4 separate regions of the Homo sapiens genome follow, and all the other regions are linked to region 1. The links come from fine-mapping of genetic effects on plasma protein levels. A gene starts in region 1. Each other region holds a variant in brackets. All regions are shown on one strand. Distances are from middle to middle.

Region 1 (8,103 bases):
GGAATAGCGACAGCAACAGGACTCAAGGCAGGGGGTATAGTTGTCTTTTAAATGGGAATCACAGCTTTCAGCATTCTCCAGGAACTAAAGTCGAGCACAAAGCAATTTGGGGCCAGAAATGCAGCATGAACATTGTCACACACCACACTGACATGGACTTATGAATATAAGTGTGTGTACATGTGTAATGTGGATTACGTGAGGACAATCACAACATCACATCCACATAGGAGATACACACACACACACACAATCTCCAGCTTTACACAGATACACACACCCTGGGGTTGCCTTTTTGTGTATACTCACACATTTCTTTTCACACAACCCGTAAAAGTGACCTCAGTAAGCACTAACAGGTTGCTGGGAGCTGACTGGTTATTTTGTACATAACTTTGTTGTAACTCAGTGATCTGACAACAAAAAAAAAGTAAAAAGAAAAAAATCAAAACCATGCGGGGTGTTTTCCTAACTTGTGTGTGTGTAGAATGCTGATGGGACACCAAACACACACACTCAGGTTCAGAGCAGGCACCCCAAATCGCATGCATAAGGGAAGGGAAGCCCGCAGGAAAGAGGCGTCCCTCCCCAAGGAATGGTGTCCACCTCAACACACAGCCCTGAGGAAGTTCAGCAAGCTGGATGATCCGCGGAATTGCCTCAGTTTACCAGCTCTCCGGAGAGCGGTGGCCCTGGCGGCTGTGAGTAAACAGGCCTGTGCTTAGTGAACCATCCGCTCGAGCGGGTGTGTGTCTGCTAGGGACTTCTGCACTTCCTTTTAGGAGCCAAACATCCTACAGATCCCTCCCCGGCAAGTGTCACTCACGCCTCCCATTTCCCATAGATGCCTTCTCTTCCCCTTCCTTCCCCAGAAGCCCCTCCCCTCTGACCTCCACCCACAACTCCGGGAGGACTAAGTTGCCCAAGTTGCCCAAGACTGGAGACCCAATCATTCCTCTCCTGCTTTCCTCTAACTCTCCCTGATGCCTTTCCCCGCCTCCTCCCCTCCTCCCAACCCCACCTCCGGCCTCTCCAGCTCAGGGCTGCAGCCTGGGGAGAGCTTCTGGGAAGGGTGGGATGCAGCTCCCATTTACCCCATGTCTTTTCGGCAACTTCTGGTGGCAGGGACATAGCAGCGGCTGGGGAGCAGGTCATAGATGGGCCTATCCTGGGCCCAGGTAAGGTCTTTATGCCAAGGCGGACATCTGGAGCCCTGGTCCAGGATGTGTCGACATACAGACAACAGAACGCATAGTCTAAAAACATAATTTAATGCATCGCGGTGAGTCTGAGTCAGGAGGGAATGCGGTGTGGAGAGGTGAATTTTCTGTTTGCTGGAATTCTGCTGTGGGTGGGGTTTTGGCTGATGGACAGGGAAATCTGCACAAGTATTTCGGGTCACAAAGAAGGACGCCCCAGGAAGCCCGCGCTCCCTCTGGCCTACCTCCCTGGCCAGGGCCCGGAGCCCTCCGCTTCTAGGCACTGGGAGGAGGCTGTCTGAGGAGGGCAGGCTCCCGGCCCTGCCTGTCCAGTCTAATCAGGTTTGCAAAGTCTGTGCCGCCGCCTCAAGGGCTCGGGCGTCCCTTCCTCCCTTGCCGGGATGGGGATGGAGACCAGGAGCACAGCCCTGAGCGTGGTGGGTCGCAGACGCACTGAGGCCAGGAGCGGGGCAGGGAGGACGCAGGGATTTGTCTTTTCCAAAGGAGATGTCAGGAAGTGTTATGAATCGAGAGTGGCCTTTGCCAAGGAGCCGCGCCCGGGCGGAGACCGGGCGGCCTGCAGCCACCCCGCCTCGCACCCCCCGCGCCCCTAATCCGGGTACAGAAGAAAGCCCGAGAACGTGCTGTACTTGTTATTATTGCCTCCGTGAGCCTTCCCGCCATCCAGCTTCACATACACTTCGTCCCCTGAATCCAAGTGCAGCACCACGCTGTTACTGGCGTAGTCGTAGTTCTGGTCGGCGTCCTGTGCAATGGCGCTGGCCCGGACCTGGGGACAAGCGGTGGGAGCAGGTGAGCCGGGGCACCTCTTCCCGCGCCTTTGCTCAGCCCACACCAGGCGCGCCACTCACGGGCCTCCCGCCTGCTGCTTCAGGGTCCACACTCCCACCCCAGCTCCATGTTCTCTCTCCAACTTAGTCAACTCCTTCCAGGTCCCCCCTCCTCCTCGCGCCGACGAGTCTGGGAAATAGGGAGAGGGGAAGCTTCATGAACACTGACCCAGAGTGGAAGGGTGGGAGCCAGGGGCCAGGGCCAAGAGGAAAGGAGGCTGCAGGGCAAGGGGGCGACCTGGAGAGAACTAAAGAACTGAGGTTTCCGAGAAGCCCACGGAGAGGCAGGCAGGGACGCAAGTGGCCAAGGAGTGTAGTTTAGGTATGGGGGTCTCTGGGCTCTCAAGGCCCAACATTTGGCTCTACGTCCCGGTGAGCGCGGCCTCGGCGCATCGGGAAGCGGAGATACTGTGGCACCGAGGCGCGTTCATTCCCGGGGCTCGCAGGGTAGCCCGCGGGTGGAGAGAAAGGAGGCTGGTTCCCTGGGAGGTTCAGGGCGCGGGCGAGGGTTTACGGGGGCCGGTGAGTGTAGGGGTCACTGACCTGCCCGTTCTTGCAGAGGTCCGCCCACATGCTGGTGCCGTCGCCGCCGCGCATGAGGATGTGGTAGGTGAAGAAGTAGATGCCGCGTACCTGGCAGCTGAACTTGCCCGTGGTGGGGTCATAGTGATTGCCGAGGTTGGTGACCACGTCATCGAACTTCAGCACCTCATAGCCTTCGTGGGGGCTCTTGAGACCCACATAGAAGGCGATCTTGGGGCCGCTGAAGGTGGCGCTCAGCGCACTGGTCACTTCACCCTCGGAATCGCCACCTACCCCGGCCCCGCCGCCCACCACCCCGACGCCGCTGGCCGTGCCCGCCGTCAGTTGCAGCCCTGGCAGCCCGGGCCGCCCCGAGTCGCCCTTCTCTCCCGGAGGGCCCCTGGGTCCAGGCGGGCCCGGCTCTCCAGGGGGCCCCCGCGGCCCTGGCTTGCCCGGTCGCCCCGGGTCGCCCTTGGGTCCCTGGATGAAAGGAGGAGGAGGGTTGGCGCTGAGGTCCTGCATGACTTCCAGGGCGGCGGTGCTGGGTCCGGGTGGCTGCGCCTTTGCACCCGGGGGCTCCCCGCCGGGCGCGGCAGTGTAAGGGTCGCAGATCATGCGGCAGGTGCCCATCATCTCATAGTGCGCGGCGCCTCGGGGCGCCGCCTGCAGCAGCAGCGGCACGGCGATGAGCAGCCCGAGCGCCATGGCCAAGAGTACGCCGACGGCCGCCAGGCAGGCACGCCGCCGCCGCTGCCACAGCCGGGAGGCGACCGCCACCAGCTCCTCCTTGCCGCCCGGGGAGGTAATGGTGGGGCGGCGCGGGCGGCCCCGCTCCCCGCGCTCGGGGACCGGCTCCGCGGGTCCTGGCCGCGCCCCCGACGTGGCGACCCCCAGCCCCGGCTACCCAACTACTTCAGCGAGAGGCGCCGGGACCTCTGAGCCTGGGCCCACCGCGCTGGGGCTGGTCGGGAGAGCCGCGGACGCCCGCGCGCATGACGTGGGGCACACAAGACGAATCCGGCGCCCCGAGGGTCCGGCGCCGGCCAGGGAGTGCTTGCGCTGGCCGGGGAGTCTGCTTGCGGCGTCCGGCGCTGGCTCCGCGGCGCTGCCTCCCGCCAGGCTCCGCTCCGCTGGGTTTAGTGGGGCTCCTAGCGCAGTGAGGGCGCCCCGGCTCCGCGGCGCGCTCTGCTGTGCTCTCTCGCTGTTCGCTGGCTCCCGCGCGGAGGGGGGACCCCGCTACCCTGACGTAAGGAGTCCGGGGCTGAGCGGCGGAGGCGGCGAAGCAGCGCGCGCTGCCATCACTCGGGAGACGGAGCCCTCATGTCATCAGCCTCCTATCTGGCGGCGTCCTCGGCAGAGGCGGTGAAGGCGCGGTTCCCCCTGGCGGCTCCCAGGAGCCACAAGTGGGCGCAGCGGGCGCGGTCCCAAGCCGGGGCACATCGGACACACCCACCCGCGGCCACACTCACGCGCCCCCCACCGATAACACACACAGACACCCACGCACGCAGTGGCGGGGCACGCACAGCCACCCCCACATGGCCACGAAAGCAGCTGGAATCCAGGTGTCAGCAGGGCTCCTCTGGGGTCACCTAATCCATCCCCTGGCCTGCAAAGAGGATCAAACCTCAACCCACCGAGTCCAGGAGAGTCCCGTGAGGTCCAGCGGGAAGGAGTTTCTGAAAGACCTCCTGAGTTATTTCTTCAGAATTGAATAGATCTCGCTTCTGGAAGATCTTTCGCAAACCTAGACTAAGGACTCCAGACTCTTAAACAGGCTCCCGTAGAGCACCCCACTAACCTCTGAGGTGACTCTAAAAAGCCCAAGGCTCCCAATACAAGAATATTTGCGGCCGGGCGCAGTGGCTCACGCCTGTGATCCCAACACTTTGGGAGGCCGAAGCGGGCAGATCACCTGAGGTTGGGAGTTTGAGACCAGCCTGACCAACATGATGAAACCCCGTCTGTACTAAAAACACAAAATTAACTGGGCATGGTGGTGCATGCCCGTAATCCCAGCTACGCGGAAGGCTGAGGCAGGAGAGTCGCTTGAACCAGAGAGGCAGAGGTTGCGGTGAGGCGGGATCGTGCCATTGCACTCCAGCCTGGGCAACAAAAGCAAAAGTCCATCTCAAAAAAAAAAAAAAAAAAAAGGAATATTCGCCTCAGACCTTTTCTTCCACCAGAAAATGGCTGGCCCTTGTCCTCTGCGTGAAGCTGGTGTAGAAACCAAATGCTTGATGCCGGCACTTGGCAGTGATCATGGTGCACTCAGCTTCTACTCCAAGCCCGGCCACTGCCAGGCAGATGCATGGGCACATTCCCTTGGACATCCCCAGCTTCCTCCTCCTGAGATGGGTTTAGTTATTTTAGAAAATAGTCCAAATAGTCCAAAGCCATTCTGAGCCAGTCTTGAATAAACCATGGCCTCAGATGAGAGCAGAATAGTCTATCTCCAATGTAGCATGTGAGGCTAAGGAAGGATGAGAGGCCCGCCGGTGTGGGAGAGACTTCCAGCGGAGAAATCAAAGCCCCAGCTTCTGCTCTTGCCCTGAGTAGCTGTGTGATTTTGCCAGGTGGTTCCTGTCCCTGAGACTCAGTTTCCTTAAAAGGCCGCCTCCTGCCCTAGCACCCCCAACATGGGAATCACACCAGGCCTGTCCTGGGGGGAGAATCTAAGGGCTGGTGTCAGTGTTTGGTGTAGCATCAGCATCTCTGGAACAACAGTGCACCCACCTAAGGCTATTGCTTTGAAGCTAACTCTCATTTGTCCTGCACTAGGTTCTTACGGGTTAATTAAAATCTATTTTTGTCCTCTGATCACCCTGGGTCATTTCCCCACTCCCAACCTCGTTGCTCTAGCCTGTTCTCTCCACATATATTTGTGGAAAGGATGACTGAGCCTAGCCGGAAGCCAACTTTACCAAGGAGAGAAGGAGCACATTTATTGGCACCTACTACGTATGCATCAGGCACTTTGCACGTGCTCCTTCATTCATTCCTCATGTTACTGTGGATTAGTGATCATTTTCCCACCGCACCAATGAGGAAAAAAAAAAGGTTTTGCAAGTGTAGGGTGTTTGCCAAGTGCATTTTACCCACATGACAGAGCCAGGATCCTCCCGGCACCCAGATCAGGGGCTATCTGAACCTGTCAGTGAACACAGCTTCAACAGCTACTTCTTGGCCACAGTCTTCACTGGTTTCCTCAGACTTGGGAGTCTTTCTCCACTCTCTGCCTCAGAGTCATCCCAAGAGCACGTGATTTCAGGAGCCACATGGCCTACTTCCAATCCTGGGTCTGAGACTTCCTGTCTGTGTGACCTTGAGCAAGTTGCTTCATCTCTCTGAGCTCGGATCTCCATGTGTAGAATGGGAATGGAAAAAGAACCTACCTCTAAGTTATTGAGAAGACTGAACGAGCCAATTAATGTAAAGGCTTTAGAACAATAGCTAGCTCAGTAGAAGCTTAGCTATTTTTATTAGCTATTGATGCTTTCAACCTCCCCTGCCATGGTTATGACCACTAGGATGCGACATGAAGGCAATATGCAGGGTGGCATGGGGAGGGTTAGGGTTTTAAAAAAAGAGAAGCTCAAAGATAATTCACATCCTTTGTCCTTCTCCAGAGCGCAGAAGGGGGATGTCCCATGCCTCCCACATTCCCCAAGCCTGCCCTGCTCTGTCTTTTTGTCTTTCAAAACTACCCAGAGTGTTTGTTCCCAGTCACCAGTTCCACCTGGACAAACATTTTCCAGGCAGACACTCACTCCGTTTGAATTCCCCAGCCTTTCAGACTGCTGGAGACTGCCAAGTCCCAGTGATTTTGTCCTTGCAGTATCTGGGCAAAGATGAAGCAAGGAGGGTCAGATGTTTGAGACCCAGGCTTTCACCTTGGCAGACCACAAGCAAAGCTACCTTCCCTGGGGATCAGCATTCCTGGGAGCGCCTCTCAAGACCAGCCCTCCACCAGGAGGCAGGGGCAGCAGGCTCCAGGGCAGGCAGAGCCCAGGCAGCCTCCACATAGCAGCCAAATAAGTCAAGAGGTGTCTTTCCCCTTGCTTCTCCTTCCTCCCACCCATCATGGCAGGGCCAGAAGGCATGGCCTGCTGGAGTGTTGAACATACCTATTTTTTTTTCTTTTTTTTTTTTTTTTTTTTGAGACAGAGTCTCACTCTGTCGCCCAGGCTGCAGTGCAATGGTACAATCTTGGGTTACTGCAACCTCTCCCTCCCAGGTTCAAGCAATTCTCCTGCCTCAGCTTCCTAAGTAGCTGGGATTACAGGTGCCCGCCACCATGCCCGGTTAATTTTTGTATTTTTAGTAGAGGTGGGGTTTTGGCATGTTGGCCAGGCTGGTCTCGAACTCCTGGCCTCAAGCAATCCACCTGCCTCAGCCTCCCAAATTGCTGAGATTACAGGCGTGAGCTACTGCACCCAGCTGACATACCTGTTTATCCACCTGGCTTCTGCTCCTCCTGAGCGATCCATATCATTGGTGACTATCTTCTCTTCAATACTAATTATGACCTATATTAACATATTGCCTTCCATTTAGACTGTGGTTTTTACATTTCGAGACCCACTCAAATCTGTTCTAAATTGCCTTTAGTAATCCAGCAGGCATTCCTTCTGCCAACATACACTGACAACCTACTATGTGCCAACCAGTGCTCTCTATCTTATCCTTTCATAGAGCCCTGTGCTCTGTGACACATAGTTTGATGCTTGGTTCCACACTGTCATGTCCGGTTCTTTAGTGGCCTCCACCAGCAGTGGGCCCCATGCTTCATCTACCTGCACCATGGCCTGTCTCCTGCATCTCATCTGGACTCCTCTCTAATTATCCTTTCAGTCTCAGCTAAGTGTCACTTCCTTGTCTGAAGTCTTCCGTGACCCTTCTCTAAGCTGAGTTGATAGTTCCTACCCATGTACGCTTTAGAGTACGTTGAATGTACCCTGCCATCCTATGTCTTACCATCATGCATTTCTTTATTAGTTAGCCTCCCCCACCTGGCTATGGGCTCCAGTAGGGCAGGAATCGTATCATTCATTCATCTTCATCTTTTGTGTATGTCATTCATTTGCTCAATATGTGTTTATTGACCCCTGTCATATGCCAGCCATCATGCCACGTGCTGAGTACACAGTGGTACACAACAGTCTTGGTTCCTTCTACTCTAGCTGTTCTACAAGACACCCTCAGCTCCCCCATTTCTTTCTACCCGTAGCACATGAGTTTGTACCTGAACAGCTGCAGCATGGGTGTTTATTGACATGCTGTCTCTAAATCAGACCTGTGTCCCAATTAGAGTGTAAGCTCTTTAGAGACATCATGTGGAATACATTGGCCAATCTTCTGCCTGCATCCCCAAAGGGAAGGACAGCAGGAGATGTGTCAGGGAGATAGACAGGAGGGAGATCACCCAAGGCCTTGGAGCCCATGTTGAAAGAGGTGAATTGTCTCCTGTGTGTAATTGAGAACTGCTGAAGGAGTTTAAGCAGGGAAGTGATGTGATCCATCTATGTTTT
Region 2 (8,103 bases), 13 kb before region 1:
TGGGAATTATGGGGCCCACCCTGCCAATCTCAGAGGGCTGGTTAAAATCACATGGTCCCTGTGGGAAAGGCTCGTAACCTGCATATGTCAAACATATACTGGGGCTTGTTGAATACCTATGGGTGAGTGAGGCCTGAAGTTCCCACCCAGTGGGCCCAGGTAGGAGGCTCCCACTTCCCTGTCAGCTCTTTCTGGGGCAGCTCCTCCTCCCCAGTTCCTCCCCTCAGTGTGTTTTGGTTCCTGTTTGTTTCTTGGCCCCTGTGTCCTGCAGCACTCACACAGAATCCCACTTGCCCTGTAGGAAACGTGGTGCTCATTCCTTAGCGGGGAAGGGAACCATCCTGCCCTCCTCCACGGATGCTCCATACCATGTCCTGAAGATCTTTCAGCAAGGACATCCAGCCTCGCCTCTCCCCTGCTTCCAGCCCTTCGGTGGTTCCCCATCCCTTCAGATGAACATCTCAGCTCTCTCACAGGTCACACAAGGTCATATGGCCCCCACTGGACTTTCCAGTCTCCCACTTGCTAGTCTTTGGCTACAAAAAAAAAAATGTAACTTCTCTGCATGGTACTAAGTCTTATGCCTCCACACCTTTGTATATACCATTTCTTTTGCCTGAAATGCCCTGTCCTGTGCCCCTAACTGCTACTCAATTACCCAGAGGACTCCTATTTATCCTACAAAACCCAGTATAGATTTCACTTTTGGGAACAAGCCTTCCTGGATTGTGTGTTCTCTCCTTCACAATGATGTTGGCCCTTTCTTCTGCTATGCTTCCCTAGATCTTGTATGTGCATGTCCCTTTGTCTTCACACCATGATGCCCCTTGATGCGACTGTCCCTCCACCAGACCATGCATGAGCTCCTTAAACGCAGTATCTAAATCATCTCTGCTTCCCCAGAACTTACTACAGGGCCTGGCACACTGTAGATGGCCATGAAAGTTTTATTAAGAAGAAATAAAAGACATACTGGAGGAGACAGCCTTTCTGCCCCCAAACTCAAAGCGATTTACAGCCATCTCCCTAAACTGGACAGGTGTGTGTTTGGTGTCTTCTCCAACCTGCTATATGTGACAGCTTTGAAGTGAGAGAACTTCCAGTTGCCTACATTTTGAACTTAGTGAATATTACAAATGATCACATTAGTGAGATAAGCATTTTGGAGGCACTTTTATTGACCCACCTAAGAAAGGCTCTAAATGTATGCCCCAAAAACGGAGACTAGTGATTTTGCAGCCTCACAAATGGCCCACATTAGGTAGGAAGTTAATTTGATTTGCATGTCAAAGGAGCGTTATCTGGTACCTGATGTAAGACTAATTTTATTATTAAATTATCAACACTGATTTACTGAGAAATACGGTACTGCCGGGAGCTATTTTTAACCTCCCACCTCAGCCCCACTCAGCAAACAAATCATTCTTTGAAGGACACTGCATTTGCAAAAGCGAATTAGGTGAATAAATATCCATCTATTCATGAAGTTTCTTTATTGAGAAATAAATAAATAACAGCCCCTGAATGCCTTCATTGTCCGCCTGGCAGGTTTCCACGACGTTGACAGTGGGCACGGCGGAAAGGGCCACTGTTTGAAGTGCCAGTCCAAGAGTGAGTGGAGAGGCGCTGGCTTGGGTTCCCACCTGGGAACTGTGTGAGGCCCCGGGGCCTGGGCCAGGGCGGGGGGATTGGTAATGTCTCACCCACCCCAGGCACGAGGGCAATGGATAGGCCTGGTCCAGCTCACTGCCTGGAACATCCCACGCTCAGCGCAGAGGACACAAGCTCAACTGAAACCCGGGTGTCTTCGTTCTCCCACTTACTATTGCTGGGACCTTGACCGAGTTACTTAACCTTTTCGTGTCTCAGTTTTCTCATATACAAAATGGGGATAATTTCTATCATTTTGTGGTGGTTGGGAGGATTAAATGAGATACATAACACATATAAAGCACCTGGAAAAGTTCCTGCCACATAGCAAGAACCCAGTGTGTGTTTCTTATTGTTCTAGTCTGCATCGTTATTGGGATAGGGAGAAAGGTAAGAACAGAAGTGTCCCTCAGGGGCAGCCATAAAATATCTTGGAGGAGCATGGGCCTTACAGTCAGACCTAGGTTCCATTCCAGCTCCACCTGGCAGAGCTGTGTGTCTCTGGGCAAACTACTCAACCTTTCTGTTCTTCAGATTCCAAATCAATGAGACAAGCATAATCACACCTACCACTGCAGGAGAAAATGAGATCATGAGCGTAAGCTCTGTAACATGGTGCCCGGCACTGAGTAAATGATCAATACACAATGGATGTTTAGTAACAGGAGAGTTACTCTTATCAAGATTAATACAGTCAATTATTCCATTCCTTGAACACATTCTTAGTGCTTCCTAGTCCCTCTTTCTTCCTTTTTCTCTCAAAACCTGGTGATCGTCTGTGATAAAATGAGAAGAATCACAACTCAATAAAGTGGTTTAAAAAAATCAGAAAAAGAAAAAGAATCCTCTCTAAAGGATCCTGACTGATGCCATTGTTATTTAAACATTGATATTCCCTGAAGTAACCCAGGAATGGAAAACTAAATGCCTCCTGTTCTCACCTATAAGTGGGAGCTAAGCTATGGGTGCGCAAAGGCATACAGACATACGTATAACTGACATTGGAGACTCAGAAGGGGGAGCGAGGGATGGAGAGAGGATAAAAAATCTACATATGGGGTACAATGTATACTACTAGGGTGATGGGTGCATGCAAATCTCAGACTCCACTCCTATACAATTCATCTGTGCAACCAAAATCCACTTGTACCCCCAAAGCTACTGAAATTTTAAAAATATATTAAATATTGATATTTTGTTCTGTCATGGGTTACAATAATCTTGATGTTTTAAATATTGCATTAAAATTATTTCTCTTAATTGGAGAGTTTTTTTGCACTCTCTTAAATTCTGCATCTTACCCTAGTCCAGGCTCTGCATAGAGACTAGAAGGAACCTCCTTGTGGGAAGAAAAGAATCTCCATTTACCTGCGGAAGTGGATGGAGGGAGACAGTGGGCAGGGAAGAAACAAGGCCAGATCATGAAAGGCCAGTCCACCAGGTTTGGGACTTGGAGGTGATTGTGTAAGTGCCGGGAGACATGGAGGTTTACTAAGCAAGCAGCTAAGAGTGATGACTATGATTTGATGGCAATCGGACTTCCTTTGCCCCATCCCTCCCGGAATGGGAACACGGGAGAGTTAATCAGGAAAACCCTAACTGAGCCCCTGGTCCCCTGCAGCTGCTGGCAAACCCCCATTAACCACTGGCTTCTCACACAGTGGAAACAATTACTTGCTGTTTGAGGGTTTGGACCATGGGGTCCCTAACTTGGCAGCCCCATTAGTCCAGGGATATGAAAGAAGGTAGCTGGCAGTAATGACTAGTTAGCCAGCTTCACAAACACAAATCCCACAGGCAACCTCCCACGGCTGGCCCTCCGGTCCTGCAGCTCGGCGTGGAAAGCACCTACTCCTCTCTGCCAGCCTCCTCAC[A/G]TGCACCAGGCTGGGCAGTGGCCTTGCTTGTTCATTTCCGCAAGAAGCCCCCATCATGAGTTACTGAGCAGCAGAAACAGAGTAAGACACAGGCCCTCTGCTGTGATGCAAGTTCCTCCTTCTACATCCAGACCTCCCAACATGGGTGATGACTATAGTGCAGAAGCTGTGAAGTGTCCCTCGAAAAATGGGGGTACATAGGCAAGGTACAGCCCACAGGGTGGCCAGCCAAGCAAAGGGTGCAACTTGTGGCCAGGGGCCAAGCAAGGGCTCAGGCAAACACCACACATGGCACATGGTGCCACCAACTCAAGGCATGAGGACATGAGGCATGCGCAGTGCCAGACCTGCCATCCTGCAGGAGTTGCAGGAAGCACCTCGAGAGAGAAGCCAGGCCCCTCATGTATTTGTAGGAAAGCTCTTGAGCTTGACTCGGGATTTCTGCCACACCACTAGGGAGCTTCTTGTTCTCTGATGCCAGTCACCTGGGCCTGTCAGAGGCTGTCATGCTAGCTGCTGGGCTAGCTCACTCACGGGGAGCCAGGCGAGAGCCCTATGCCTGCCTCTCTTAGAAAGTGGCTGTTTGGAGAAAGCGAAGAAGGGATGGGCAGTGGCTTCTAGAAGCTCTGCCGCCGGACTGGGAGATTTTTTGGATAGAGAGCATCTCATTCCCAGCACCTACATAGGGTTAGCATACAGCTGTGCACTGACTACATGGATGATGGATGAGTAGGTGTATGTATGTATGTATGTATGTATGTATGGATGGATGGATGGATGGATGGATAGATAGATGGATGGATAGATAGATGAATAGATGGATAGATGGATGGATGAGTAGATGCTCTAGCTAATGTATCCAGGATGCTATGGGAGATAGCATTTCCAGGGCTGGGATACAGCCCTGGAAAGTGATCTGCTCTAACTGCCTGACAGAGAGGTGGGAATCTATATGCTTGCTCTGTCTCCCATCATGTTTACCATGTTCAGACCCCTCACTTTGAACTATCAGAAGCCCTGAGAAGCAGAGAAGACTGACTGGGAGGCTATTCTCAGTAGAGTTGTTAACCAGCCATGAGACCCTGGACTGGTCACTTCATTTGTCTTAGCCTCAGTCTCCTCTACTGAGGGGAGATGGGGATGTTATAATTGTATGTCCAGTGACCACAGTCCTTGCAGAAATCCACTGGGAAGGAGCACAGGAGCTATCTGTAATTCCACATGCTGGTGAGTGTGGGGGCTGGCATGTCACTACAAATGAGGGAATGAATGGCTGCCAATGCCCTTCAGAAAGAATCGAGTGGTATTACAATGTTAAGTTGTTGCTGCTGCATGTGCAGTTATCTGCATCTGTGATTCCAGAACACCATTATTTGGGGTCTTTTAGGCAACTCAGGGACCCTTCTAACTTCCAGCTCCTGCCCTGAGATGTTTCTTCTCCCCAGTCCCTCCCTCCCCCATCATTCAACACTCAGCCCTGGACACCTCCTATCCCCATGTGACCCCACCCCAAATACAAACTCCAAACACACTTCAAAGAGAGTCAGCAATGAAGTTTATTATGTGTGTTGGAGGCAGGGAGTTGGGAAAAGCGGAACCAATCAATGGCATAAAGCTCTTCTATCTTTCTACTGAGAGGCAAGAAGGGCTCAAACACCCCCAAGAGTGTTCTGAGCCAGATACACAACCATTGCAATTGACACTGTTGTGTCCCCATAGGTACAGCACACCACACACACACACACACACTCCATCCCACACACAAACATCCCTCCCACAATACATCCCTCCTGTCACACACATAAGTCACATCTCCCTCCATGTATGTGCATGCCATATGCACACCAATGCACACAGCCCAACACACGTGTAGAGAGAAAGGCTCCAGAAAACCCTTCCCCGAGGCAAGCTCACCTCCAGGACTGTGATTGTGTTTCCCTCCCTGCCAGAATGGCCTCCTCCTGGTCCCCTCCAAAGAGCTGGAGGCATCTGCACCGCTTTGTTTCTCCTCTCCTGGCTTTACCCTGGGCTCAGTGGCTCTCTGGAGTGATGTCGGCTCCCTGTTCTGGGTGGGATATCCCCTGCCCTGGGCCCTGGTCTGGCTCCTGTCTTTTACAGAGTTCATGTGGGACTGGGCCTTATCTCAGGACATTTTGTACCCCAGGGCCCGGCACTGCGTTCAGTGTAGATGTAGGCACTTAATAATTGTTTGGAGAATGAATATGGAACCAAGGGATTTCCAAAGTGTGTGAGTTTTTTCTGCTCAGCCTCATTGCCAGCTCCCTAAGGAGCTTAATGACCACACTTACATGACAAACCCCAACTGATGGGCCACCACCTCCTGGAAGCCCTCCTGACCACCCCAGCCCTTCTCAGGACCTCTCATTTCCACATAGAGGTTCCCTGTGCCCAGATCAGCCATCGGGTCAGCCCTTCCCCAAGTATCCGTAGAGTGGATCAAGACACACTGCAGCACCTCTGTCGTGCAAAAAGGAAGGGCTTTATGGCCACACAAACCTGGGCTGCAACTCAGCCTCCACCACCTCTTAGCTGTGGAGCTGGAGCACAGCTGAGTTAACTTCTCAAGTCTCGGGGCCCTCGCCTGTGAGATGGGAAGAATAACACCCATTTTGCAGGACTTCAGGGAGTTTTAAATGAGGGCATGCAAGTCACAGGCACCTCTCAGTAGGTACCTGACAAACAGGAGTGAGTACTATTGTTGTTATCATTGACAATTACTATTCTTGTTACCAACCAGACTGAAAGAGAGTGACAACCATTCCCCCCACCACGGTGCTGGGCACACAGTGGACACCCAGTAATCAGGTTTTATGTGAAACATGTGGCAAAGCTGGCTTTCACAATCTGCAGGCCACCAGACAGCTCCCACTGGACTCCATGCCCTTGAGCAGCATCTGGGTTTCCCACGTATGCCTCATGGAGCTGGGAAAGAAAACAGAAACCAGCCTTCCAAGGCTTGTAAGCTCCATATTGATCCCGTGGAGGCAGGGCAGGTCTTGAAAGAGGGCCGCAGCTTGGACTGCATGCTCTCAATGTACCCTCCTGAATGGGCTCTGCTGAGCACACCCCCTACCCAACCCTGACCTCAGAGCTTTAGTGGGATTAGCAGGCATTCTTACTATGCATAGCAAGAGGCCCTGAACCACTGGGCTGTGTATGCCAATTTGAAATCAGGCTGCGATGGAGTTGGGCCGTCAATGGGAGTTTGCATATTCATGTGGCAGAGCCCTGAGACTTAGTCACAGCTCCAGGCCCAATTACGCAGGGGCTTATTAGCCTGGGATTTAACAAGGGAGCCCCAACAGGATCTGCACAGTCATCAGTCTTAAGTTGCACAAGCATTCCCAGCACGTACTGGGACCTGCGAGGGCCAGTGCTAAAGTAGGTGAGAGACCAAGGCATGAACAGTGGAAAGGGCACTGGGTTGAATTCTGGCTGTGACATATATAACCACCATTGAAAACGGCCTCTCGCTTCCTCATCTGTGAAATGGGTACAATTATCACTCATCTTCACCTCACAGGGTTACTGAAAGGACTGTAGACATGTTTGAAAAATGCCCTTGGTGTCTCCTAACACACAGGCATGCTCATAAATGCCAGCTACTGACACTAAAATCCTGCCCTTTCTCACTCCAAGAAGTCTCAGTTTGATGATTCCTGAAATGTATCGGCTCAGGAGAAAATGAAGAGATCCCTAATCATTATCTCAATACCACCACCACATACTAACCCCAGGTCTCAAGCACTTATTCTGTATCCCATACTGTTACGACATCTCATTAATTCTCCCAATTACCCATGTGGTAGGAGGACTGGTCCCATTTTATAGATGGGGAAAAGAGAGGTTCAGCAAGTTAAATAATCTGTTAAATTATTGCGGAGCTAGTTCATGGTAAAGGTGGATTTGAATCCACCAAGTTCAAAGACCACAGTTGAGTTCCTCCAACCATCAGTAGCTTGGACAAGTAGCCAGGTGGTGTAGTTGGCAAAGTGACTCTTTCAAAATAAATGTTTAAGTGCTGATGACAACTAACTTTTATGGAACACTTCCCGGTGACATCGCTGACATCCATTAGCTCATTCACTCTTCACATTAGTCTTGTAGAATAGGCAGCATTTTACAGAAAAGGAAACCCTGTACCAGGTGCAGTTGTTCGTGCCTGTAATCCCAACAACTTAGGAGACCAAGGTGGGAGGATTGCTCAAGGCTAGGAGTTCAAGGCCAGCTTAGGCAACATAGCAAGATTTCATCTCTACAAAAAGAAGAAGAGGAAACCATGGCTCAGAGAGGTTCTATGACAAGCCTCAGATAACCAGCAGGCTGGTAGGGAAGACAGAGAATTGGATTACTAAAAGCAGGACCTTTGACGTCAGATAGACCTGGGCTTCAATCTTCAGGCTCTCCTTTGCTGTGTGACCTTCAGCAAATCACTAGCCCTCCCTGTGCCTCAGTTTTGATCCTCTCACAGCGTGACCGAGAGAACTGTTGAGATATTTAACTTGCTGCATCTCACTTTACTCCATTGTTGAGATTAAGCAAGATAACACAGATAAAG
Region 3 (8,103 bases), 160 kb before region 1:
ACCGGGGGGCAGGGAAGGCCAGTGGTGCATCTGGGGTCTGTCTAATCCAGGCTTTCATCCAGTACTTTGCCGTTTCACCCCCAACACACCTGTTCTCATTCATCTGCAGACTGTCTCTTTTCATGATCTGCTGAAGAGGCTTTAAACAATCGTGGAGAACCAATGTATCTTTCCATCTGCATTAATCAGACAAAAGGTAGAGGTTGTCTAAGATTAAAAATGTCTAATACCTAAGTTTTATTATCTCCTCCCCCCCCCCTTTTTTGTTTTGATCTTAGGACTTCAAGGACAGCAAGGAAGAAAAGGAGAATCAGGAGTTCCAGGTAAAGGGCAGGCTGCATCTTCATCCCTCGGAGTGATGACGGGGAAGGCCTGCCTTCTCAGAGGGCAGGTCTTGTTGACATTGAATGCACAGCTGTGACCTTCTCCCAAAGTGGAGGTTAAGACTCCAGGGCTCTGTCACTCAAGCCTCAGATTTCTCCGCTGCAAAACCTGGGAACCACAGGAACTCAACATCCTGAGGGGTGTAGCGTATGGGGCAGGGGCTGAGGATGGCAAAGGGGCTGAGGATGGCAAAGGGGAAAAATGTCAGGAGAGCTGGGGGTGCAGGCAGAGGCTCCAGGCTCTACAGCCGCCATGGAGCTGTGCCCCTTCTGCTCCATCCACGGCTGCTGCTTCCCCACCTCAGCTGTGGCCCACTTGTCTCTTCTTGGCCCCCAAGCTTCTCCTCTCTGCCTCCTGCTGCCTGTCACTGGGCTTTCTTATTCTTATCCTCACCTCCAGAGCCTGTGCTTCAGTTGGGTACTGAGCTGGCACCAGCTGGACGGTGTTTCTAGGCCTCTCAAGAGCCCTGCCCCTGTGAGTGCAAAAGTGAGATTTTTCAGACACATTTCTTGAGCAAGTTTTCTTCCTCATAAGCTAGATATTCTATTATGTTTTATGGTTTTTTTTTTTTTCAATTTTTTTAGAGACAAATTCTCTGTGTCACCCAGGCCCGAATGCAGTGGTGCCAGGACAGGATAGCTCACTGTAGCCTTGGCCTCCCGGGATCAAGTGATCCTCCCACCTTCGTCTCCCAAAGCTTGGGATTACAGGAGTAAGCCACTGTACTCGGCCTCTGTTACTATTTCAATTCACTAAAGGAGACATCGAGGCTTAGAAACATTCTAGCAAATTCTCCCAGCATGGCTAGAACTTCCACATAACTATGTAATTCCAGAAGGACCAAGAATCTGTGGAATACCACCAGCTATTTTAGCCTGCCTGTTCTCGACAGCATTTACCTAAGAGTTGAGAGATCAGTGCAGCCCCCAGATGGACCAAAGACAGGCTGAACATTCAGATAGCCCAGCCATGGGGGAGGTCTGGCAGTTAAGGATAACTCATTTATTAAACAGTAATGCCCTTGGGTCTCTCTTGGGAAGGCAAAGCAGGGCACCTGATCAGGGCAGTGTCTCTCCTTCCAGGCCCTGCAGGTGTGAAGGGAGAACAGGGGAGCCCAGGGCTGGCAGGTCCCAAGGGAGCCCCTGGACAAGCTGGCCAGAAGGGAGACCAGGGAGTGAAAGGTAAGGCCTCTGCATCTGATTCCTTTGTTCTTAGGACTGTGCTTTACAGCCAGTTCTGTACCTTAAAATAGGAAAGGCGCTGTTTTAAGAGTTCTGGGGATTTTCAGAACCCAGGAGGGTAGAGGTTTATTTCCTTGATTGACAAGTCTTGTGCTGGGGCTTGCCCTAGGCATGGAGCACACAGCAGCGGGTTAGGCGCAGCTCTAGCATCCAAGGCAGGGGCGTGAACATGCACTTGAGCCATGCCCCACGACCCAACACTCCTAGGCAGTTTCCATGAAGGAGATGAGCCCATCCCACTCCATATCTCTGACCAGACCAAGCATCCCTCACCAATCTAACTTCAACCCCTCTTGCTGTAGCTCAGGCCCGTTTCTTCCTGCTCAGTCATTGACACCCGCAGGACATCCCATCCCCATAATGCCAGGCCACAGGCGAGACCCACGGAGCATCTGACCACTCCCAACCCTCCACCCGCTCCCCACTCATGCAAATGCAGGCAAAGGCGTCCTGCCTGGGTTTCTTTCAAACCGTGTGGGTTTTCTCCTCATGACAGGATCTTCTGGGGAGCAAGGAGTAAAGGGAGAAAAAGGTGAAAGAGGTAATCACTATTTATATTATCTTTAATGTGTGCTTTAAAGTCAATTCTGCACCTGAAAATTGTGTGTGTTGGGGGAAGAGACCTTGGTTCTCAAATAAATTTCTCATTTTGGGGAGGAGTTGAGGGTCTAGTCCCTTGAATGAGCCTGCCCACGGCACAGAGCAGCAGTTTCTCTCCCCAGCCACTCTCTCCCTTCCTTCCTTCTCTCCCTTCCTTCCCCCTTTCTCCTTCTTCCTTTCCTTTTCTCTCTCCCTCCCTCCCTTCCTCCCCTTTCCCTTCTTTCTTTCCTCTCCATCCCTCCTTCCTTTCCCTCTCTCTCTCCATTCTTTCCTTCCTTCCTTCTCTTTTCTCAGCTTTCCTTTTTTTCTCTCCACAACACATGACAAGACGTGGTGTATGCGATTTGCAAACCAGCCACAGGGGCACCTGCCCCTGTGGCCTTGTGCCTGCAGGCCCCAGGTGCATGGAGGCTGCGTGCCAGGTTGGGTTGGCACTGTAAAGTGGGATCTTCCAGGCTCTGGTGACAGTCAAGCAGGGGCATTTCTTTTCCTTAACTGTAGAACTCCAAAATGAAAAGAAAGAGCCCGCACTTACCCAAAGCCCCAAGGGGCCTTCCTTGCCTCTCCCATGTGTGTTTCTTCACCCAGGTGAAAACTCAGTGTCCGTCAGGATTGTCGGCAGTAGTAACCGAGGCCGGGCTGAAGTTTACTACAGTGGTACCTGGGGGACAATTTGCGATGACGAGTGGCAAAATTCTGATGCCATTGTCTTCTGCCGCATGCTGGGTTACTCCAAAGGAAGGGCCCTGTACAAAGTGGGAGCTGGTAAGTGAGTCATCAGCCGGGGGCCTCTTCCCCAGAGGTGTGGATGTGGCTTTCTCTCGCTGGTGGGGTGTTGGCAAGTGACTCAGTGTGGTTTTCTTTAAAAGAAAAATATTGGTCCAAGCAACCAAAAAGCTCTGCAGTGCAGGGCTCCAGGTATGCATCCTTCCAGCTTGGCAACCCCAGCAGAAAGATGGCCTGTCTTCTCCAGCGCTGACAGTGAAGGCTGGCCTGGCTTCGGTCAAGGTCCATCCAGCCCTGGAGTCAGAATGCCACATGGCTGAGGGTGTTTGCCGCAGATGGCTCTCCAAAGGACAGCTGAGTTGATGCAACTGGAAGAACAGAGAGAAGATTCAGGGCAGGCAAACGCAGATGTTCACTCCAGCTGTCTGTGAACCAGCAGCCTGGATTGACCAGCAAGCAGTCTTGGCTGTGATCATCTTTAAAGAGAAGATGGGAAGGGAAGAGAAAGCAAATCAGAGCAGGGACTTACTAAAATGTGTGGAAAATGTCTTCGGATGCTGGAGACTCAGCCTATATCTTTCAGCCAAAAGTTCAAGCCTTGAGCAAAGAAGTTAAGTCCCCAGGCAGAACCCTTTTCTCTGGCTATAGGATCTGGCCCAGCAGGACATGAGGCCAGTTTCCCTTGCTCCCAGCCCCAAGTGCTCCCTGTCCTTACCCAAACCAAAGCAAATGCCCACTTTAGAGCAGGGCGATGGCTTGATTACAGAGGCATGTGAGGCAGGTGGACGCAGCAGGAGTGAATTTGCAGGGAGGAAACTAAAGGACACCCGCCTAGGAAGATATTTCAAATAGTGTGGGGTTTAAGCATTAAAGATTTGCATGAGACTTTTGTCAAAGGGTAGAGAATAGAACGGAGGCAAAGTCATTATAAAAACAACAACAACAACAACAACAACAACAAAAACAGGCTAAGCCAGCCATCAGCACATTGGGCCGGAATGGGCCAGAATGAGTGAGAAGTCGGCAGTCCACCTCAGATGGAAGCTCCCAGGCGCACACGTGGCTTCTTTGCTTTGACTCTAATCCTACCCTTCTTCCTCTGTCTCTTGCTTTCTCTCTATCAAGGCACTGGGCAGATCTGGCTGGATAATGTTCAGTGTCGGGGCACGGAGAGTACCCTGTGGAGCTGCACCAAGAATAGCTGGGGCCATCATGACTGCAGCCACGAGGAGGACGCAGGCGTGGAGTGCAGCGTCTGACCCGGAAACCCTTTCACTTCTCTGCTCCCGAGGTGTCCTCGGGCTCATATGTGGGAAGGCAGAGGATCTCTGAGGAGTTCCCTGGGGACAACTGAGCAGCCTCTGGAGAGGGGCCATTAAT[A/G]AAGCTCAACATCATTGGCTGTGGCTGAGTGTCACTGTGTTCATACCTCCCATCCCCATTGATGTGCCCACTCCATGCACCACAACATTTCATTGAATTCTCTCATGTCCGTAGCCAGGGGAAGGAGAGGTTGGAGGTGGTGAGGCAGAAGGTGAAGGTCACCTATGGTCAACCTTAGTCTTGACCATCTCTTCAGTCATTCAGACATAACATCTCTCATGGTGAGCTCTCTATCCCCCTTTTTGTCCTCCCCTGACAGTGACCTGGTAACATTCCAGCACACACATGAACTCTCTTCATGCCCTATGCTGTGTGCTCCACCCTGACTCCACCTGCCCAACCGGTCCTTGCTCTCTCTCAGCGCCCTGCCTGCTGGGCTAAGCCCACTCTCCATGTTGCAAACCACATAGTAAGCCTGAAATCAGTCTTAGAGTCTCATTGATCTTTCCTTCCATACATGGGTGGGATTTACAGAATGGAAATATTTATCTGGAGTGACAGTAATCAAAAAAGTTTTCTGAAGAAAGCACAATTTGAACTGGACCTTAAAGGGTGGGGAGGATGTGACCCCTTCTTGGCATGCAGTGACTGTCACTCTAGGACCTGTAGGTATAAAAGGCTTCGTTTTCCTGAGCCTCTCCTGTGTCCCTTCTTGTGGCAACAACTCACTAACCATCTACTGAAAGAACAAAGAACACTAGGTATCAGCTTGTTTTTTTTTTTAAGTTTTAGGGTACATGTGCACAACGTGCAGGTTTGTTACATATGTATACATGTGCCATGTTGGTGTGCTGCACCCATTAACTCATCATTTAGCATTAGGTATATCTCCTAATGCTATCCCTCCCCCCTCCCCCCACCCCACAACAGCCCCTGGTGTGTGATGTTCCCCTTCCTGTGTCCATGTGTTCTCATTGTTCAATTCCCACATATGAGTGAGGACATGTGGTGTTTGGTTTTTTGTCCTTGCAATAGTTTGCTGAGAATGATGGTTTCCAGCTTCATCCATGTCCCTACAAAGGACATGAACTCATCCTTTTTTATGGATGTGTAGTATTCCATGGTGTATATGTGCCACATTTTCTTAATCCAGTCTATTGTTGTTGCACATTTGGGTTGGTTCCAAGTCTTTGCTGTTGTGAATAATGCCACAATAAACATATGTGTGCATGTGTCTTTATAGCAGCATGATTTATAATCCTTTGGGTATATACCCAGTAATGGGATGGCTGGGTCAAATGGTATTTCTAGTTCTAGATCCCTGAGGAATCACCACACTGACTTCCACAATGGTTGAACTAGTTTACAGTCCCACCAACAGTGTAAAAGTGTTCCTAATTCTCCACATCCTCTCCAGCACCTGTTGTTTCCTGACTTTTTAATGATCGCCATTCTAACTGGTGTGAGATAGTATCTCACTGTGGTTTTGATTTGCATTTCTCTGATGGCCAGTGATGATGAGCATTTTTTCATGTGTCTTTTGGCTGCATAAATGTCTTCTTTTGAGAAGTGTCTGTTCATATCCTTTACCTACTTTTTGATGGGGTTGTTTGTTTTTTTCTTGTAAATTTGAGTTCATTGTAGATTCTGGATACTAGCCCTTTGTCAGATGGTTAGATTGCAGAAATTTTCTCCCATTCTGTAGCTTGCCAGTTCACTATGATGGTAGTTTCTTTTGCTGTGCAGAAGCTCTTTAGTTTAATTAGATGCCATTTGTCAATTTTGGCTTTTGTTGCCGTTGCTTTTGGTGTTTTAGACATGAAGTCCTTGCCCATGCCTATGTCCTGAATGGTATTGCCTAGGTTTTCTTCTAGGGTTTTTATGGTTTTAGGTCTAACGTTTAAGTCTTTAATCCATCTTGAATTGATTTTTGTATAAGGTATAAAGAAGGGATCCAGTTTCAGCTTTCTACATATGGCTAGCCAGTTTTCCCAGCAAAATTTATTAATAGAGAATCCTTTCCCCATTGCTTGTTTTTCTCAGGTTTGTCAAAGATCAGATAGTTGTAGATACGCAGCATTATTTCTGAGGGCTCTGTTCTGTTCCATTGGTCTATATCTCTGTTTTGGTACCAGTACCATGCTGTTTTGGTTACTGTAGCCTTGCAGTATAGTTTGAAGTCAGGTAGCGTGATGCCTCCAACTTTGTTCTTTTGGCTTAGGATTGACTTGACAATGCGGGCTCTTTTTTGGTTCCACATGAACTTTAAAGTAGTTTTTCCCAATTCTGTGAAGAAAGTCATTGGTAGCTTGATGGGGATGGCATTGAATCTATAAATTACCTTGGGCAGTATGGCTATTTTCATGATATTGATTCTTCCTAACCATGAGCATGGAATGTTCTTCCATTTGTTTGTATCCTCTTTTATTTCCTTGAGCAGTGGTTTGTAGTTCTCCTTGAAGAGGTCCTTCACATCCCTTGTAAGTTGGATTCCTAGGTATTTTATTCTCTTTGAAGCAATTCTGAATGGGAGTTCACTCATGATTTGGCTCTCTGTTTGTTTGTTATTGGTGTATAAGAATGCTTGTGATTTTTGTACATTGATTTTTTATCCTGAGACTTTGCTGAAGTTGCTTATCAGCTTAAGGAGATTTTGGGCTGAGACAATGGGGTTTTCTAGATATACAATCATGTCGTCTGCAAACAGGGACAATTTGACTTCCTCTTTTCCTATTTGAATACCCTTTATTTCCTTCACCTGCCTGATTGACCTGGCCAGAATTTCCAACACTATGTTGAATAGGAGTGGTGAGAGAGGGCAACCCTGTCTTGTGCCAGTTTTCAAAGGGAATGCTTCCAGTTTTTGCCCATTCAGTATGATATTGGCTGTGGGTTTGTCATAGATAGCTCTTATTATTTTGAGATACATCCCATTGATACCTAATTTATCGAGAGTTTTTACCATGAGGGGTTCTTGAATTTTGTCGAAGGCCTTTTCTGCATCTATTGAGATATTGAGATAATCGTGTGGTTTTTGTCATTGGTTCTGTTTATATGCTGGATTACGTTAATTGATTTGCATATGTTGAACCAGCCTTGCATCCCAGGGATGAAGCCCACTTCATCATGGTGGATAAGCTTTTTGATGTGCTGCTGGATTCGGTTTGCCAGTATTTTACTGAGGATTTTTGCATCAATGTTCATCAGGGATATTGGTCTAAAATTCTCTTTTTTTGTTGTGTCTCTGCCAGGCTTTGTTATCAGGATGACGATGGCCTCATAAAATGAGTTAGGGAGGATTCCCTCTTTTTCTATTGATTGGAATAGTTTCAGAAGGAATGGTACCAGCTCCTCCTTGTACCTCTGGTAGAATTCAGCTGTGAATCCATCTGGTCCTGGACTTTTTTTGGTTGGTAAGCTATTAATTATTGCCTCAAATTCAGAGCCTGTTATTGGACTATTCAGAGATTCAACTTCTTCCTGGTTTAGTCTTGGGAGGGTGTATGTGTCCAGGAATTTATCCATTTCTTCTAGATTTTCTAGTTTATTTGTATAGAGGTGTTTATAGTATTCTCTAATGGTAGTTTGTATTTCTGTGGGATCGGTGGTGATATCCCCTTTATCACTTTTTATTGCATCTATTTGATTCTTCTCTCTTTTCTTCTTTACTAGTCTTACTAGCAGTCTATCAATTTTGTTAATCTTTTCAAAAAACCAGCTCCTGGATTCATTGATTTTTTGAAGGGCTTTTTGTGTCTCTATTTCCTTCAGTTCTGCTCTGATCTTAGTTATTTCTTGCCTTCTGCTGGCTTTTGAATGTGTTTGCTCTTGC
Region 4 (8,103 bases), 170 kb before region 1:
TTGTCTCTGGGGCAAAGCGGTGCACTCCTTGAGGGCAGCGGTCATATCTTCCACTCGCGGGCACCAAGTAGGAGCTCAAGGAGTTTAGGGTTTGGGATTTCAGTGGAATGGGAAGTGTCAGAGGAGGACATGGTGGCCTGATTGGAGTTCCTCCCACAACTAACCAAGACTTTTTGGTTTTTCAGGAAGCAAAGGGGACAGGGGCATGAAAGGAGATGCAGGGGTCATGGGGCCTCCTGGAGCCCAGGGGAGTAAAGGTGACTTCGGGAGGCCAGGCCCACCAGGTAAGAGGGCACGTGGTCACATCCACTGACCTCTAGGTATTTCCTTTTTTTTTTTTTTCTGGCTGGCTGAGCCAAAGGAAAAAAAAATTCCTAAAAGTTCTTTTTCATCTTAGGTTTGGCTGGTTTTCCTGGAGCTAAAGGAGATCAAGGTAAGAACTACAGGAATCTGGGCATCATCCCAGCTACGACTGTCCCTGGCAGAGTGAAGCTGGGGACCAGACACCACCATCTTTTGCTTCATTGTAGTATTCACCCAGAACACCTGGGGTTTTTTAGACATCTGGCCCTGGCCAAGAGGAACAGAGCAGCCAGTGGGCGGTGGGGGCAGGCCTCACTGATGTTTCTCTCTAGACTTTACCCCACTTTGCCACCCAGGGGGTGGAGTTGGACAGTCACACCCAGAGCTCCTAGTAAGTCCATAAGTCCCAGGCCCTGCAGATGGAAAAGATTAGTAAGTTGCTGAGAATAATTTTCCTCCTACTAAGAGGGCTAGCTCATGGCTTCTAAAGAGAGGTGTTAAAGCTGCCAAGAGGACTGTAAGGTGTTAAGAGGTACATGTCTCACTGCTGAAAACAGAAGCACTGGGGGTTGGGGTATCTGGGCCCTCTGCCAACCACCACAGCCTGGCAGTCACTACTTTCCTTTCAGGACAACCTGGACTGCAGGGTGTTCCGGGCCCTCCTGGTGCAGTGGGACACCCAGGTGCCAAGGGTGAGCCTGGCAGTGCTGGCTCCCCTGGGCGAGCAGGTGAGGTCCTGGGTCCTATGGTGGGCACAGGGAGTGATGTGTGAAAACCTGCCTAGTCCAGCCCTTATGCTCTCTGTGGTGTCTGTTGTCCAGGACTTCCAGGGAGCCCCGGGAGTCCAGGAGCCACAGGCCTGAAAGGAAGCAAAGGGGACACAGGTAACAGAGGGTGCAGTGGGTGAGTAGGTGGGCTTGCTGGGTGGCAGGATGGATGGAGAGAAAAACTGCTTCTTCTTAGGCCCACGGAGGAGGCAGAGGGTCTTCTGTGCCTTGGCCTCTGAGGTTCCTGGTTATGGGGGCAGTTGCCCCTGCCAGGACCCCTTAAGCCCAAGGGCCTAGGGCTGTTCTTTCTCTTCTCAGAGCTCATGAAAGTCCTTGAATGCCATGACCAAACCTCCAGCATCACGGAGGAGAGCAAAGCACCTTGCCCATACCATCTCCCTGGTCTGCCTCCCAGCTGTACGTTTCTGCTGTCTCCTGCTAACCCTTCATTGGGGCCCCTAAGAGGGGGTCCAAGAGTCTAGATTCAGGCTGGAGGGTCCAGAAAACTCTTCTTCCACATTTTCCTAGGGGGGCAGCCTGGGAGCACTGACCCACACTAGCCAAAGACTAGTTTATACCATAATGCCAACAGAGTCTAGGTTAGTCTAGGTTATATACCATCATGTCTATTTAGTCTAGGTCGTAAACCATTGTACCAATATAGTCTACTTTATAAGCCGTTTTGGTCCAGTCACAGTGTGCTTGCTTGGTCTAGAAAGTCCAGACCACTATCACAATGCATAAGATCAATTCCTGCCTTTCTGCCCTGACATGCAGGGTATTGCAGTGAACAGAGACTGTTGCCAGATGATGTGGGCACACTCTGATTGGGCATTTCTGTGGAGAACTGTTGCACATTGGAAAGCCAAGAGCGGGCAGGAGGGGCAATGGGGAAGGCAGGGTTGTGATGTAAAGCTGCATGTCTGCCAAGGACATCTGTAGACAGTCTGCCTCCACCCCTGTCCTCTGCCTGAGAAGGTCACGCTTGTGTCAGACAACCTGGATGCCCTCACCCCCGTGCTGTGCTAGAGACCTACACTGGGACCTGGCCCTCCACAGCTCTAATCAATTGATTGATTCATTCATCACCACCTCCTGGCAAACCTTGGGCTCTGGGCTTGAGCTTTTGTGTTTCTTTGAAAGCTGTCGGGAGCCATGGCAAGCGCAGTTTTACACCCTCTCTGTCCTTGTAATCTGTCGAGCCCCAGAGCAATTGTGTTTTTTATGGACAGTGTGTTTGGGAGGATCCCTGCTACCTGATCCCATGTGGATGCCACCTGAAGGCCACTAGCTGGGTCTCACCATAGGAAAGTTTCCATCTGGGTATAGTCGTCAGATGTTCCTGACTTGTTCACTGTCCATTCTGATCTTATAATTCCATCTTCTCTGGTCCCCAGTCTCAGAGTCCATCTGACTATGAGACCTGATGCTCTCTTGCCCCTGAGCCTTCTGTGTGATTTCATGGAGATGATTGCTTTCATCTCTCGGTTGTAAATAGTAGTCACCCTCTGCCCCCACCCCCACTGCCAGACTAACGGTTCTCAACTAACCAAGAGTATTGGAGGTAAAACATGATTTTACCCACAGGAGCATTGTGCTTACTCCCCAAGCCCCAAGCTTGTGTCTTCCACAGTCTGAGGGTAGGGAATCCTGCCCTGCCCTTTGCATCCTGGGAGGATTTGCAGAACAAAAGCAGCTCCTGCTAATGAGCATCTTCTTGACACCCAGTGGGACAAGCACTCTTTGTAGCACAACTTTACGGTCAAACAGCCATTAAGAGATGCAGCCAGGTTCAAATCTAGGCCAGTACAAGACAAAGCTTGGGATCTTATTAGTACAGTCTATCATGAGTTCTCCCTCCCCAGCCCCACAATCAGGGTGTGCTGATGAGTGACACCTCCTCCCTTCATCCCAGTTCAGAAAGGATCAGAGCAGAAGGTAGCAGCTTGTTCCATTCCTGGGAAGAAACATGAAGCTTTCAGGCCCTATCATGGTTCTTAGTTATTTAACCAGGACCCCACACCCATTTTAGCAAAAGACTTTTGGCCCATAGCTTGGGGATCATTTTAATTTCATCCTCATCGAGACCTTTTATATCTGCTGAATACCCTTATGGAGTTCTCCAATAATTAGGCCTAGTGGTGAGTACCAGCCAGCAAATTCTAGGGGTTACCCTTAATTCTGGCTGACCAAGTAAACATGAGGAAGTGCATTTCAATTTGGGGCTTGTGATAATTCCCGTTTATCTAAAACTGTGCAGGTTGCCCACCCGAGTCCAAATGTTTTCCTTGATTTAGTAGCTGACAGTCCACATGGACATCTCAGAGGGGAATTCCAATAGGACCATAATCTGGCTAATTTAGCTGGGTATGTAGATCATCCTGGAGTCATAGGCTAATAAACTTCCGGAGAGATTAGATTTGACAACTTCTGAAGTGGGAGAAGCAGGGGCAGGCAGAGGGTGGGAGCCCAATCTCCCCATCATGGAGCACAGTGTATACTTGTCAATGTCAGGATGTCGGTATTCCCCAAACTAAAGCCACTGCAGTGCTTGGCCAGTGTTGATATATCAAGCCAGGTTTCCAAACTGATGTATTTCCCATTTTGTAAATAAAATCGTTAATCTCTCAAGAGAATATCTAGCCACTTTAGATGAAAACAGAAAAATTACAGTGCGTTGGCTTGACCTAGGTGACAGCTAGGTTTCATTACTG[C/T]GCATTAATTATTTTAAAAACATGAGCGGTCTGTTCATTATTATCAGTGCCTCTGGGCCAGGCACTGTGCCTGGGTCTTGACTCCCATGATCACACTGAACTTATCATTCCTACTTTACAAACAAGGAAGCAAAGGCTCAGAGAGAGTAAACCCTTTGCTCACAGTGTCACAGGGAGCATGAACTGAATTCAGAAGTGAATCCCAAAGTCTGATTCCAGAGTTGTGCTTTTCCAGAATCGGTTTTATGGAAGAACGTAGAGTGTATGATTTGAGAGAAATCGGTTACCTTCACCCTGTCCCCACCCCAGCCACACCTCCCACTCCTCCATAAATGGGTAAATCCTGGCTTGGTCACCAAGCCTTTCTACCTCCTCCACAGCCACTGACCACACTCTACCCCATTCAGGTGAAATGCTTCCTCTTGTTTGCATCTCTTGAGAGAGGAGCCAGCTCATATTAAAGAAGACAAAGAGGAAATTCTTCCCATTCTGGTGGGAAGATAACCTCCACAGTTTATTAAGCAAGGCACCATACCCTGCAGAACCTTCTCTCAGGGTCACTTTTTTTACCTACTAGAAACAGACCCTGTCCAGCCTCCATCACTTAGTATTTCTAACATTTTCACTTTCAAAGATTGCAGAAGAATAATCCAATTTTAGCTCTACATGTCTTAGCTATTTTGAAATAATATTTATTTAGAAATAAGGAAGGACTCCACTTCGGCTTGTAATCATGACATTTCTCTTTTTACCATTTACACCTCATGAAATAACATTAGAAGCAGCCAAAACATTTAAACTCCAAAACACCAATCTGATTGGAAATTCTTTATCTCAATGGCCTTTATGTCTAAACTATAGCAATGTGAATTTTCCATGCCCTTTTATTTTCCTCTTGGGGCAAAACCGAAGTGCAAATAACTCAAAATCCATTTTCTCATCTGTATTTGAAGATGTTTTACTTTAAAGATAAGCCAAAAAGATCATCCATAATAGCAATTGAGCCCTATGTCATGAATATAATTTCTTAGTTAATTCCATTCCTTATATCTAAGTTCTGAGATAGTCCAATAATTTATTAAATTCTACTAAGTCAAATCACTAAATTGTCATTTATAAAACTCTTCCTCATTTTCCTCTAAGTTTCTGAGAGAGCTTTGCAGAAGTCTACACATACCCCAATTTTGAGTCCCTTATCCTTCATCTCACTTCTTACCACAAGGTCGATTTGTCAGTTATTAGCTCAATCCTAAATTTGCCAGGTTGCATCTAGCCTCCAAGTTGGCATGGTATTTAGGAAAGTTTCCCCAGACGGGGCAAGACAGCAATGTCCCCCTCTCTACAAAACATAAAAAAATTAGCTGGGCATAGTGGCATGTACCTGTAGTCTCAGCTACTCAGGTGGCTGAAGGAGGAGGAGAAGGATCACTTGAGCCAAAGAATTTGAGCCTGCAGTGAGCTATGATTGCACCACTGCACTCCAGCCTGAGCAACAGAGTGAGACCCTGTCAAAAAGAAGAAAGAAAGAAAGAGAGAGAGAGGAAGGAAGGAAGGGAGGGAGGGAGGGAGGGAAGGAAAGAAGAAAGAAAGAAAGAAAGAAAGAAAGAAAGAAAGAAAGAAAGAAAGAAAGAAAGAAAGAAAGAAAGAAGGAAGGAAGGAAGGAAGGAAAGAAAGAAAGAAAGAAAGAAAGAAAGAAAGAAAGAAAGAAAGAAAGAAAAGAAAGAAAGAAAGAGAAAGAAAGAGAAAGAAAGAAGAAAGAAAGAAAAGAAAGAGTGTGAGAGAAAAGAAAAGAAAGGGAAAGAAAGAAAGTTTTCTTAATGTATTGGAGATTTCTCCATTTCACTCAGAATCAGGAGATCTGAGCCTCAGCTTGAACTTACCCCTGACTAGCTGAGTGACCACAGGCTCAGCTACTTGACGTTGCTGAGCCTGTTTCCTTTTCTGTGGCGTGCAAGCAGTATAGAAGAACACCAGGTCCCTGACAGTTTCACAGCACTCTGGGTTTGAAATAGGCAGCTTCCCTGGGAGCAGGAACAATTGAAGACTTTAGTCAGAACACCAGCTCAACACTAAACAACTGGAAGGCATATGTTTTCTAACTTAACACACATTTCTTGGGAGAATATTATTTCTGTAAAAACACTTTGCAAGTAAATATTTGGAACCCTTTCAGCTTGATAAGCTTGTGATACTTGGGGAAAGCCAGCTTGCTTATGGTTAAGAAGAAAAATCCAGCATTTATTTGCTCTCCAGCGTAGTTTTACAACATGCAGCTCTAGAACCTATTTTTTAGCCATTTCTCCCTCTACTCTGCAGGAGCTGATCCTATCAGGATGCTGCCTTGATTTATAGTGAAGTAATTACTAGTTCCTCCATCGATTAGTCCATGGACAACCACTCAGCCAGTGTTCTCTTAGAGTCCAGCGAGGCTTGGAGAGAAATGATACAAACCTCAATTCTAATTTCCAATACCCATTAAATACATATCAGAAGGCATTTCATCAAGGTCCAACCTCTGCTATAGGAACTGTGGGTCTGGGAGGATTCAGATGCGAGAGGGGCTGTGAGCTCCTAAAGAGACAAGGAAGGCTGCTCGTAGGAGGTGGGCTGTAAGCTGGTCGCTCAAGAATGAGTGAGAGTTGTTTAGGGCAGTGTTACTCAAAATGTGGTCCTGAGACTTGCAGCATTAGCATCACCTGGGAACTTGTTAGTACTGTGGATTCTTGGATTCCCACTCCAGTCCCACTAAATCAGTGACTCCGGTGGGACCTAGCAAGTTGTTTACTAACAAGATGCACCCAGATGATTCTGATGTATTCTCTAGTTTGACTACTCCTCTTTTAGGGGGAAGAAATGGCCTCAGGGAGGCTGGAGGTGTCTTGGGAACCAAGTGCGTAGACCAAGTGAAACTCCAGATAGGAGTGAGCCTAGTACTAGTGGAACAAAGGTGCCTTCAGGGAACATTGGGAGGCTGGGCCTGGGTGACAGCCCCAACTTCCCCCATTCACTCTTATGTGACCTTGAATTACTCACCTAGCATCTCTGAGTGTGTACTTTCTCCTCTGTAAAGGAGGGAAATCACACTGCCTTGGAGGGTGGCTGAAAGATCAAACAAGGTCATGGATGTAAAGCCCCTGGCACAGTGCCTGGCGTGATGCAGGCAGCAGAAAATGCTGAGTCCCCTGGAGGTGAGGAGCTAGGAAGGGAGAGTGTGGGAAATGAAGAGGGAGAGTCAGGCTTGGGGCTATGGACCTGGTGAACAGGGGCTTCCCTATGATTCCTGTCTTTAGAGGGTGTTTGCTGCTCGGTGCTTTAGGGGACAGTTGGAGGGGTGCATCTCTTTAGGTGGTCACAATAAAGGGTGGTCACAGTGTTTTGAGGCCCCTTCTACTTACCTGCATGTGAACAGCGTATGTCAAGACTGGTGGGGAGAAAGACCACAATCTATATGTCTATGATGGTGATGAAGCAGGAAACAGTCCACATCCAGACTCTTGGCCCCTTCTATCTGCATCCCAGAGGGTGCCATGTTGCAGAAATCTCTACCTTAAGAGCGTGTCCCTAGAGGTAGGGTTCAGGGACCCCAAGACATAGTGACCTCCCTGGATGTGGACTGTTTTCTACTTCATCACCATCATAGACATACAGAATGTGATCTTTCGCCCAACCCATCTTGGCGTATGCTGTTCAGATGCAGGTAAGCAGAAGGGAAACATCTGTCGCTTCTCCTGGGCAATCTCAGCTAAGCCCTTCAGGTCAATAGCAGACATTTTCTGGGTGCTAGCTGTGCAGCAATCCTGGTGCTCATGTGTGGACTCAACCTCAGTGCCTGAGGTGCTCCCCACCTGGAGGGGACACAGGACACTGTGGGTCCTGTTACATCATTTATTCAGCACTGGCTGGGCACCGGGCTCAGCGCTTGATACACACGATTTCATTTCAGCCTTACAACTGCCTCAGGAGGCAAACAAGGAGACTCAGAGAAGGAAACTGAGGCTCAGAGCAGGGACACCTGGCTCAAGGTCACAAAGTTAGTATAAGACAGAAGTGGACTCAAGTCCGGGCTGTCAGACTTTGGAACCACTTTGCTTTACTGCCTTGGGAGAAAGGATATCTTGTCTTGGGCGAGGGAGAGAAGGCTTCACAGGTGGTGACATCTGACATCTTTGCAGAGTTTACAAGCTAAATGTGAGTTCTCCAGGTGAACCAAAGCAGTGAGGCATTCTATTCAGAGGGACAGGTGTGTGCACAAATGGCCCTGTGTAAGCTGGGGCCTGTCTGCCAGGGGCTGACCTCTAAGGCACCTCCAGCTCTTACAA

Direction of the effects. Alleles are on the strand shown, and positions count from the first base shown. The strength of an association depends on the size of the effect and on how common the allele is.
As copies of A replace G in region 2, the plasma level of the protein whose gene starts at base 3,759 in region 1 goes down (moderate association).
With allele A in place of G in region 3, the plasma level of the protein whose gene starts at base 3,759 in region 1 is lower (weak association).
In carriers of allele T in region 4, the plasma level of the protein whose gene starts at base 3,759 in region 1 tends to be higher than with C alone (moderate association).

What was found. PIP is the chance, under the fine-mapping model, that this variant and not a neighbour inherited with it causes the effect. Protein levels are from antibody-based Olink assays in UK Biobank. Linkage for the fine-mapping came from a reference panel and not from the study's own genotypes, which makes the PIPs less certain.
Region 2: its variant is fine-mapped to the plasma level of the C1QL2 protein (UK Biobank, PIP above 0.99).
Region 3: its variant is fine-mapped to the plasma level of the C1QL2 protein (UK Biobank, PIP above 0.99).
Region 4: its variant is fine-mapped to the plasma level of the C1QL2 protein (UK Biobank, PIP above 0.99).

What each region holds. Positions count from the first base shown.
Region 1 is chr2:119,154,993-119,163,095 of GRCh38, forward strand. C1QL2 (complement C1q like 2) reads right to left here and starts at 3,759. Exons shown (of 2, transcript NM_182528.4): 1 at 2,594-3,759; 2 at 1,251-1,989. The coding sequence starts at 3,277. The coding sequence ends at 1,810. RefSeq lists an enhancer at 2,127-2,937.
Region 2 is chr2:119,141,523-119,149,625 of GRCh38, forward strand. No RefSeq gene overlaps it. Among named protein-coding and RNA genes, the nearest start is that of C1QL2, 13 kb to the right of the region's middle. The variant A/G (reference allele first, on the strand shown) is at 3,525.
Region 3 is chr2:118,990,311-118,998,413 of GRCh38, forward strand. MARCO (macrophage receptor with collagenous structure) reads left to right here. Exons shown (of 17, transcript NM_006770.4): 13 at 279-323; 14 at 1,467-1,565; 15 at 2,122-2,166; 16 at 2,814-2,990; 17 at 4,077-4,350. The coding sequence ends at 4,210. It overlaps LOC124906072 (a long non-coding RNA gene), which reads right to left and starts at 3,008. Exons shown (of 3, transcript XR_007087213.1): 1 at 2,761-3,008; 2 at 778-856; 3 at 1-176. RefSeq lists an enhancer at 2,087-3,286. The variant A/G (reference allele first, on the strand shown) is at 4,332.
Region 4 is chr2:118,981,224-118,989,326 of GRCh38, forward strand. It overlaps MARCO (macrophage receptor with collagenous structure), which reads left to right. Exons shown (of 17, transcript NM_006770.4): 9 at 186-284; 10 at 398-433; 11 at 933-1,031; 12 at 1,125-1,187. Among named protein-coding and RNA genes, the nearest start is that of MARCO, 43 kb to the left of the region's middle. RefSeq lists an enhancer at 7,764-8,103. The variant C/T (reference allele first, on the strand shown) is at 3,785.